2 separate regions of the Homo sapiens genome follow, and region 2 is linked to region 1. Evidence: fine-mapped expression QTL. A gene starts in region 1. The other region holds a variant in brackets. All regions are shown on one strand. Distances are from middle to middle.

What was found. PIP is the estimated chance that this variant, and not a neighbour inherited with it, causes the effect. A credible set is the group of variants that fine-mapping cannot tell apart.
Region 2: its variant is the best candidate, but not a certain one, in a credible set for the expression of LGALS4 in lung (TOPMed, PIP 0.51).

What each region holds. Positions count from the first base shown.
Region 1 is chr19:38,810,127-38,815,468 of GRCh38, reverse strand. LGALS4 (galectin 4) reads left to right here and starts at 2,524. Exons shown (of 10, transcript NM_006149.4): 1 at 2,524-2,627; 2 at 2,950-3,038. The coding sequence starts at 2,583. It overlaps ECH1 (enoyl-CoA hydratase 1), which reads left to right. Exons shown (of 10, transcript NM_001398.3): 10 at 1-47.
Region 2 is chr19:38,759,980-38,765,355 of GRCh38, reverse strand. No RefSeq gene overlaps it. Among named protein-coding and RNA genes, the nearest start is that of LGALS7, 11 kb to the left of the region's middle. The variant C/T (reference allele first, on the strand shown) is at 2,391.

The DNA.
Region 1 (5,342 bases):
CCCAAGGCCTTATCTTCACCCCACAAACAATAAAGCAAAGTAAAGAACCTGGTGCCCTTCTTGGATAGAGGAGAGGTGGGAGGGGCTGGGATGCACCTAGGGGCTCCAGAGACTGCAGTCCTGAAGGCTGGGGCTAGAGGTTGGATGCATGGGAATGGGTGGCATGGAGGTGATGGCCATTCAGACTGGCAGCGGGCAGGCGAGGGGCACAAGGAATTCCGGGGCGGAGGGAGTGAGCAAAAGTCGCTGGGGTCCCTCTGGGTTGCAAGGCTTCCTGGTCTCCCTGCCTGCCCTGGGGTTGAGGGTGGCGTTCGTGCCCTGCCTGGCACCTCTCACTGCACAGCACATGGGATCTGATGCTGGCGTCTCACACCTGTAATCCCAGCACTTTTGGAGGCTGACGCAGGTGGATTGCCTGAGCTCAGGAGTTTGCAACCAGCCTAGTCAACATGTTGAAACCCAGTCTCTACTAAAAATACAAAAATTAGCTAGGTGTGGTGGCAGGTGCCTCTAGTCCCAGCTACTCGGGAGGCTGAGGCAGGAGAATCCTTGAACCCAGGAGGTGAGTTTGCAGTGAGCTGAGATCATGCTGCTGCAGTCCAGCCTGGGTGACAGAGTGAGACTCTGTCTCAAAAAAAGAAAAAACAAAACAAAAAAGGACTTTGGGGTTTCTGGCCGGGTGCAGTGGCTCATGCCTGTAATTCCAGCACTTTGGGAGGTTGAGGCAGGTGGATCACTTGAGGTCAGGAGTTTGAGACCAGCCTGGCCAACATGGCAAAACCTGGTCTCTACTAAAAATACAAAAATTAGCCAGGCGTGGAGTAAGCCTGTAATCCCAGCTATTCAGAAGGCTGAGGCAGGAGAATCCCTTGAACCTGGGAGGTGGAGGTTGCAGTGAGCTGAGATGGTGCCACTGCACTGCAGCCTGGGTGATAGAGCAAGACTCTGTCTCAAAAATGAGCAAACAAAACTTTGGGATTTTTTATCCATATATCATCCCAATCTTCCGGATTTATGTTTGGAATGACTGCAAGAGACCAAGCATTAAGTTAATGACTTCTATATGCTATGTCCTGTTCTGAGCATTTATTATCTTAATGATCAAGGACTCTATGAAGTTGATACTATTATGATTATTATTATTATGACTATTATTGTTGCTATTTTTAGAGACGGACTCTTAGTCTGTCACCCAGGCTGGAGTGCAGTGGCATGATCATAGCTCACTGTAACCTTAACTCCTGGGTTCAAGCGATCCTCCTGCCTCAGCCTCTGAGTAGCTAGGAATACAGATGTGTGCTACCATGCCCAGCTAATTTTTATTTTATTTTTGTAGAGATGGGGGTCTCACTATGTTGCCCAGGCTGGTCTTGAACTCCTGGGCTCAAGCAGTCCTCCTGCTTCAGCTTCCCAAATTGCTGGGATTGTAGGCACAAGCCACCACACCCAGCCTAAGGTTGATACTACTCTTTTCTTTATTTATTTATTTTTCTGAGTGGCAGTTGGACCCACAGCTAGAACTTATTTGGCAGATTAATAACATACAGGCATTACTGGATCACAAATTCATTTTTAAAATATTTTGATAGCTATTCAATACTTGTTTCCTCTCTTATGAATTCCTTTTTTTTTTTTTTTTTTTTTGAAACAGAGTCTCCATCTGTCATCCAAGCTGGAGTGCAGTGGCGTGACCTTGGCTCACTGCACTCTCCTCCACTCAGGTTCAAGTGATTCTCCTGCCTCAGCCTCCAAGTAGATGGGATTATAGGCACCCACCACCATGCCTGGCTAATTTTTGTATTTTTAGTAGAGACTGGGATTTTGCCAGGCTGGTCTCGAACTCCTGCCCTCAGGTGATCCATCCACCTCGGCCAGTCAAAGTGCTGGGATTACAGGCATGAGCCACTGCACCCAGCCGATACTACTATATCCCCATTTTACAGATGAGCACATGGGCAAATTGAGGGTAAGGCACTGACCCATGATCATACAGCTGAGAAGTGGCAAAGGCAGGATTTGAACCTAGAACCTCTGGCTCCACACACTAGTAATCTAAACCACTCTCCCTACAATACAACATACGTGGTAAAGATGTGTGGTGGGCACGCAATCAACGTAGGTCCCTTCACAGTTGCTGGGAGAGGCAGGAATTTGCAGTTCCTCCGCGTTCTCCTCCTCCGCTGCCCACCTGTCCTGGGTCATTCCTGCAGCCTGCCCTGCCCTGCCTGGTCTCACCCTCCCTCTGCCAACAGAAGTCTGGGCAGGGTTTTATGGGCTCTGATAAGGCCCTGGCAGGGCCGAAGTTCATGAGCACTTCCTCTTTGCAGGAGGGCGTAGGGGAGGGGACCCAGGTGATTTGGGTCCTGGCTGGTCACCAGGGAAGCTGGCAAGGGAAGGGAGACTAGGGTGCGCTCTAGGAGAAGCCGACAGCCTGAGAGTCCCAGAAGAGGAGCCCTGTGGACCCTCCCCTGCCAGCCACTCCCTTACCCTGGGTATAAGAGCCACCACCGCCTGCCATCCGCCACCATCTCCCACTCCTGCAGCTCTTCTCACAGGACCAGCCACTAGCGCAGCCTCGAGCGATGGCCTATGTCCCCGCACCGGGCTACCAGCCCACCTACAACCCGGTGAGATGCCAGCTCAGGCCCCACTCCGCCCGCAGCTCCGTCCATAAGCCCTCACACCAATTTTCCCCACTCTGATCCTGGGGGGCCCCATCTGACTCTGTGGTCTGATTTACCCAAAGCTGACCCCGACCCTCGATTTACTCCTACCCTGACCTCAGGCTGTCTGTGTCCACGTCTAACTGTTGGCCCTCGTCATCTTCAACCTGGTCCTCCCCCATGGTTTCCTCTCTCCTGCTTAAGGGACTGGGGGGCTTTTCTGGGAGGGGTAAAGGCTGCAACAGGCAGATGGCTTGTGAGTCCCCTCACCAGGCCTCTTCTCCAGACGCTGCCTTACTACCAGCCCATCCCGGGCGGGCTCAACGTGGGAATGTCTGTTTACATCCAAGGAGTGGCCAGCGAGCACATGAAGCGGTAAGACCCTCCCCAAGCCAGGCCGGGCTGGCAGGGGACTTCCAACTGGGTGCTCTGGGCCTGGCTGTTGGGGGCTTTCTGCCCTTACCCCACCCTGGTGGAGAGGGGACTCTTTTTCTGCCCCACCCAATAGCCAGAGATGAATCTGGGGCAGATCAGGAGTGGGGACGTGGGGGCCAGAAGGTTCAGGGAGGGCTCACCGTGAGAGGCAGTCCCTGAGTTGGACATTAGACTGAAGCTGATGGGTGCAATGGCAGGAATTCAGATCACAGGCTCAGAGCCGGGTCCCCGAGTTAAAATCCCAGCTCTGCCACTCCCCAGCTCTGTGTTGGTGAAAGAGTGAAAGTGACTATACCTCTCTGTGCTTCATTTTCTTTTCTTTTCTGTTTTTGTTTTTTTTGTTTTTTTTTTTGTTTTGAGATGGAGTTTTGCTCTTGTCGCCCAGGCTGGAGTGCAATGGCATGATCTTGGCTCACTGCAACCTCTGTCTCCCAGGTTCAAGCGATTCTCCTGCCTCAGCCTCTTGAGTAGCTGGGATTACAGGCATGTGCCAGCACACTGGCTAATTTTTGTATTTTTAGTAGAGATGGGGTTTCACCATGTTGGTCAGGCTGGTCTCGAACTCCTGACCTCAAGTGATCCTCCCATCTCGGCCTCCCAAAGTGCTGGGATTACAGGCGTGAGCCACTGCGCCTGGCCCAGTCTTAGCTTTTTAAAAAGGGCCTTAACACGTTGATAATGATTGGCCTCATAGGACTTTTTTTTTCCTTAGAGATAGGGTCTTGCTCTGTTGCCCAAGCTGGAGTGCAGTGGCACAATATTATAGCTCACTTCGGCCTCCAACTCCTGGGCTAAAGTGATCCTCCTACCTCATCTTTCCAAGCAGATGGGACTACAGACATGTGCCACCATGCCCAACTAATTTAATTTTTAATTTTTATTTATTATTATTATTTGTTTTGTAGAGACAAAGTCTTGTTATGTTGCCCAGGCTGGTCTTGAACTCCTGTGCTCAAGCGATCCTCTAGCCTCGGCCTCCTAAAGTGCTGGGAGGATCAGGCACTGGTATGAGCCACTCTGCCCAGCCTGTTGTTTATTTATTTATTGTTTACTTCTTCACTGAGTGCCTATTCTGTGTCCTGGCACTAGGGATGGAGGAGTGAACAGGACAGAGACCCCTGCCCTCGTGGAGCTGATGTCCTAGTAGGGGAAACATAAAAAATAAGTCCAGGCCGGGCGCGGTAGCTCAGGCCTGTAATCCCAGCACTTTAGGAGGCCTAGGCAGGCAGATCACCTGAGATCGGGAGTTCAAGACCAGCCTGACCAAAATGGAGAAACCCTGTCTCTACTAAAAATACAAAATTACCAGGGCGTGGTGGCGCATGCCTGTAATCCCAGCTACTCAGGAGGCTGAGGCAGGAGAATCACTTGAACCTGGGAAGTGGAGGTTTCGGTGAGCCGAGATCGTGCCATTGCACTACAGCCTGGGCAACAAGAGTGAGACTCTGTCTCAAAAAAAAAAAAAAAAAAAGTCAAATATGTAAGATGTCAGATGATATTAAGTGCTATGAAGAAAATGAGGAGGGAAGGGAGATGGGGAGTGTATGTGCGGACAGAGGTTCCCTTTAAATTGTCCCCTTAAATAGGGTGGCCTGGCCGGGCATGGTGGCTTACGCCTGTAATCCCAGCACTTTGGGTGGCTAAGCCAGGCAGATCACCTGAGGTCAGGAGCTCGAGACTAGCCTGGCCAAAATGGCAAAATCGCATCTGGCTGGGCGTGGTGGCTCACGTCTGTAATCCCAGCACTTTGGGAGGCAGAGACGGGCGGATCACGAGGTCAGGAGATCGAGACCATCCTGGCTAACACAGTGAAACCCCGTCTCTACTAAAAATACAAAAAATTAGCTGGGCATGGTGGCGGGTGCCTGTAGTCCCAGCTACTCGGGAGGCTGAGGCAGGAGAATGGCGTGAAACCAGGAGGCGGAGCTTGCAGTGAGCCAAGATTGCGCCACTGCACTCCAGCCTGGGCGAAAGAGCGAGACTCCATCTCAAAAAAAAAAAAAAAAAAAAAAAAAAGGCGAAATCTCATCTCTGCTGAAAATACAAAATTAGCCAGGCATGGTGACAGGTGCCTGTAATCCCAGCTACTTGAGAGCCTGATGTGGGAGAATCACTTGAATCCTGAAGGCAGAGTTTGCAGTGAGCTGAGATCGCATCACTGCACTCCAGCCTAGGTGACAAAGGGAGACTGTCTCAAAAAAATTAAAAAGGTGGCCAGAGAAGGCCTGCCTGGGAAGGGAACAT
Region 2 (5,376 bases), 50 kb after region 1:
TTTCTTCTTATTGAGTTGCAAGAGCTTTTCATATTTTCTGGATATTTCCTTTGTCAAATATATGTAATATGAATATTTTCTCTCCTTCTGTGGTTAGCCTTTTCATTTTCTTTTCTTTTTTTCTTTTTTTTTTTTTTTTTGAGACGGAGTTTTGCTCTTGTTGCCCACGCTGCAGTACAATGGCAGGATCTCGGCTCACTGCAACCTCCACCTCCCAGGTTCAAGCAATTCTCCTGCCTCAGCCTCCAGAGTAGCTGGGATTACAGGCGCCCGCCACCACGCTAGCCAATTTTTGTATTTTTAGTAGAGACGGGTTGTCACCACATTGGCCAGGCTGATCTCAAACTCCTGACCTCAGGTGATCCACCCACCTTGGCCTCCCAAAGTGCTGGGATTACAGGTGTGAGCCACCGTGCCCGGCTAGCCTTTTCATTTTCTTTATTTTTAGTTTATTTTATTTTTTGAGACAGAGTCTCTGTCGCTCAGGCTGGCGTGCAGTGGCACAATCTCAGTTCACTGCAACCCCCTCCTCCCAGGTTCAAGTGATTCTCCTGCCTCAGCCTCCCAAGTAGCTGGGATTACAGGCACCTGCCACCATGCCTGGCTAATTTTTGTATTTTTAGTAGAGATGGGGTTTCATCATGTTGGCCAGGCTGGTCTGGAACTCCTGACCTCAGGTGATCCACCCGCCTCGGCCTCTCAAACTGCTGGGATTACAGAGGTGAGCCCCCACGCCTGACCGAGCCTTTTTATTTTCTTAAAGATGTCTTCCTCAGAACAAAAGTCTAATCGTGATGGCGTTCATTTTATCAGTTATTTTTTCTGTTATGTAGTGTGCTTTTGTGACCTACTTAAATCTTTGCTTAAGAAATCTTCGTGAGAAACATTTGTCACAAAGATTTCTTTTTACATTTTATTGTAGAAGGTTTATAGTTTTAGCATTTAAGTTTAGTTTTTAAACCTTAGTTAATTTTTTTTTTTTTTGAGATGGAAATTCACTCTTCTCAACCAGGCTGGAGTGCAATGGCGTGATCTCGGCTCACTGCAATCTCCACCTCCCGGGTTCAAGCGATTCTCCTGCCTCAGTCTACTGAGTATCTGGGATTACAGGCACCCGCCACCACGCCCGGCTAATTTTTGTATTTTTAGTAGAGACAGGGTTTCACCATGTTGGCCAGGCTGTTCTTGAATTCCTGACTTCAGGTGATCCACCCGCCTTGGTCTCCCAAAGTGCTGGGATTACAGGCGTGAGTCACAGCACTCGGCCTAACTTTAGTTAATTTTTGTCTCATTAGTTAATATATTATTTCTAGTTAATTTTTAGTTATTTTTAGTTAATTTTTGTGTGTGGTATGAGTTAAGGGTCAAGGTTCTTTTCTCACTCTATAGATGTCCAGTTATTTCAGCACCATTTGTTGAAGTGACTGTTTTTTCTCCTCATTGAATTATATTGGCAATTTTGTTAAAAATTAATTGACCATTTTTGTTGTTTTAAATCTGGACTTAATCATTCTTCTGATTCCTTGATTTATATATCTATCCTTATCATGATAGCATATTCCTGATTACTGTAGCTTTATAGTGAGTCTTTCTCTCTTTTTTTTTTTTTTTTTTTTTGAGACGGAGTCTTACTTTGTCGCCCAGGCTGGAGTGCAGTGGCGTGATCTCTGCTCACTGCAAGCTCCGCCTCCTGGGTTCACGCCATTCTCCTGCCTCAGCCTCCAGAGTAGCTGGGACTACAGGCACCCACCACCACGCCCGGCTAATTTTTTTGTATGTTTAGTAGAGACGGGGTTTCACCGTGTTAGCCAGGCTGGTCTCTTAACTCCTGACCTTGTGATCCACCTGCCTCGGCCTCCCAAAGTGCTGAGATTACAGACGTGAGCCACTGCGCCTGGCCTTTTTTTTTTTTTTCCTTTAAAAAAGACGGAGTCTCTCTCTGTCACCCAGGCTGGAGTGCAATGGCACAATCTCAGCTCACTGCAACCTCTGCCTCCTGAGTTCAAGCAATTCTCCTGCCTCAGCCTCCTGAGTGCTGGGATTACAGGTGCCTGCCACCATGCCCAGCTAATTTTTGTAGTTTTAGTAGAGATGGGATTTCACCATGTTGGTCAGGCTGGTCTCGAACTCCTGACCTCAGGTGATCTGCCCACCTCGGCCTCCCAAAGTGCTGGCATTACAAGCATGAGCCACTGCGCCTGGCTTCTTCTTCTTCTTTTTTTTTTTTTTTGAGACAGATTCTCACTTTGTTTCCCAAGCTGGAGTGCAGTGGTGCGATCACAGTTCACTGTGGTTTCAACCTCCTGGGCTCACCCTCCTAAGTAGCTGGGACTACAGGCACATGCCACCACACCCAGTTAATTTCTGTATTTTTTGGAGAGACATGGTCT[C/T]GCCATGTTGCCCAGGCTGGTCTGGAATTCCTGGGCTCAAGCCATCCACCCACCTTGACCTCCCAAAGTGAATAGTGAGTCTTAAAGTCACATTATATGCCTTGCAACTTTGTTCTCCTTTCTCAAAATTGTTTTGTTTATTCTATGTCATTTTCATTTTTCAATACATTTCAATGGATACTTGTACAAAAATTGTATCTGTGTTTCTATTTTGTTCTTGAGTCAGTTTTGGTAATTTGTGTCTCTCTAGGGATTTGTTCATTTCATTTAAATTGCCTAATTAGTTGACCTAAATCTGTTCATAATATTCCCCTGTGATTTTTTAAAATTTGTGTACCATGTTAGTGTTTTTCCCTCCTTCATTCTTGCTTTTGGTAATTGAGGGCTTCTGTCTTTTTTATTTTTCTTACTCTTTTGTTGAACTTTTTAATGAGCTAACTGATTTCATTGAAAACCAGTATACTAGTTTGTTTGTTTGTTTGTTTGTTTTTGAGACAGAGTTTCACTCTGTCGCCAAAGGCTGGAGTGCAGTGGTGTGATCTCGGCTCACATCAACCTCCACCTCCGGATTCAAGCGATTCTCCTGCCTCAGCCTCCTGAGTAGCTGGGATTACAGGTGCCCACCACCATGCCCCACCAATTTTTGTATTTTTAGTAGGGACGGGGTTTCACCATGTTGGCCAGGCTGGTCTTGAATTCTTGATCTCAGGTGATCCACCTGCCTCGGCCTTCCAAAGTGCTGGGATTACAGGTGGGAACCACTGCACCCGGCCCAGTTTTGCTGATCTTTTCTTTTTTTGAGACAAGAGTCTCACTCTGTCACCCAGGCTGGAGTACAGTGGCATGATCTCGACTCACTGCAACCTCGGCCTCTTGGGTTCAAGTGATTCTCCTGTCTCAGCCTCCAGCTGGGATTACAGGTGTGTGCCACCATGCCCAGTTAATTTTTGTATTGTTAGTAGAGACAGGGTTTCTCCATGTCGACCGGGCTGGTCTCGAACGCCTGACCTCAAGTGATCTACCCACCTTGGCCTCTCAAACTGCTGGGATTACAGGTGTGAGCCACCACACCTGGCCTGTTAATCTTTTCAATACCGGTTTTGTTGATGTTTTCAATGAGCCAATTTCAGTTTCATTGCTTTTTCTCTATTGTTTTTATATTTCTGTTTCATTGCTGTCCATTTAGATCTTTATTACTTCCTTCTTACTATTTTCTTTGAGTTTGATTTACTCTTCTTTTTCTAGCTTTGGAGGTGGAAGCCTAAATTATTGATTTTAGGCCTTCTTTCCATTCTAATGTGTTGGGGTTTTTAAAATTTTCACCAGGCTGACTCAACACTAATATGTTTTTTAAGCTATAAGTTTCCCGCTAATTACTACATTGCCAGCATCCTGTACATTTTTATTTCCTGTGTTTTTGTTTTTATTCAGCTCAAGGTATTTTCTAAATTCATTTTTGATTTTTTTTTTTTTTTTTTTTAGATGGAGTCTCACTCTGTCACCCAGGCTGGAGTACAGTGGCGTGATCTCAGCTCACCACAACCTCCACCTCCCAGGTTCAAGCAATCCTCCTGCCTCAGCCTATCAAGTAGCTGGGACTACAGGCATGAGCCACCACGCCCAGCTAATGTTTGTATTTTTTAGTAGAGACACGGTTTCACCGTGTTGGCCAGGCTGGTCTCGAACTCCTGATCTAAGGTGATCCACTGGCCTTGGCCTCCCTTGGCTGGGATTATAGGCATGAGCCACCACACCTAGCCAGATTCCTTCTTTGACACATAGGTCATCTACAAGTATGTTGTTTAGTTTTCTTATATTTAGAGATTTTCTAAATTTCATTTTATTGTTGGCTTTTAGCTTAGTTCCATTATAGTTAGAAGTAATACTTTTTAAATTATTTTTTATTTTTACTATTATTATTTTCTAATAGAGATGGGGGTCTCATTATGTTGCCCAGGATGGCCTCAAACTCCTGGGCTCACGAGATCCACCTGTCTTATCTCACATAATAATTTCTTTCCCTCCCACCCTCCCTCCCTCCCTCCCTCCCTCCCTCCCTTCCTTCCTTCTTTCTTTCTTTCTTCTTCTTCTTTTTTTTTTGAGATGGAGTCTCTCTCATCCAGGCTGGAGTGCACTGATGCAATCAGCTCACTGCAACCTCTGCCTCCTGGGTTCAAGTGATTCTCCTGCCTCAGCCTCCAAGTAGTTGGGACTAAAGGCAGGTGCCACCACACCTGGCTAATTTTTGTATTTTCAGTAGAGATGGGGTTTTGCCATGTTAACTGGGCTGGTCTGAAACTCCAGACCTCAGGTGGTCCACCTGCCTAAGCCTCCTAACATGCTAGGATTACAGGCGTGAGCCACTGTGCCCGGCCCAATCCTATGTCTCTCTCTTTTTTTGTGTGTGTTTTTTTTTTTAGATGGAGTCTCTCTCTATTGCCCAGGCTGGTGTGCAGTGGTGTGATCTCAGCTCACTGCAACCTGGTTCAAGTGATTCTCCTGCCTCAGCCTCCCGAGTAGCTGGGACTACAGGTGCCTGCCACCACACCCAGCTAATTTGTATTTTTAGTAGAGTTGGGGATTCACCATATTGGCCAGGCTGGTCTCAAACTCCTGATCTTGTGATCTGCCCGTCTTGGCCTCCCAAAGTATTGGGATTACAGGTGTGAGCCACTGCATAGCTGGCCTCTCCTTATCTTAAAAAAAAAAAAAAAAAGAGGAGATTGAGGCAAGGCGAAGTTTTAAATTTTTAAATAATAATAACAATAATAATTATTATTATTATTATTTTGAGACAAGATCTCGATCTGTTGCCCAGGTTGGAGAACAGTGGTGCAATCTCGGCTCACTGCAACCCCCGCTTCCCGTCCTCAAGCCATCCTCCCACCTCAGCCTCCTGAGTAGCTGGGAATACAGTCGCACACCACCATGCCCAGCTAATTTTTGTATCTTTTCTAGAGACAGAGTTTCACCATATTGCCCAGGC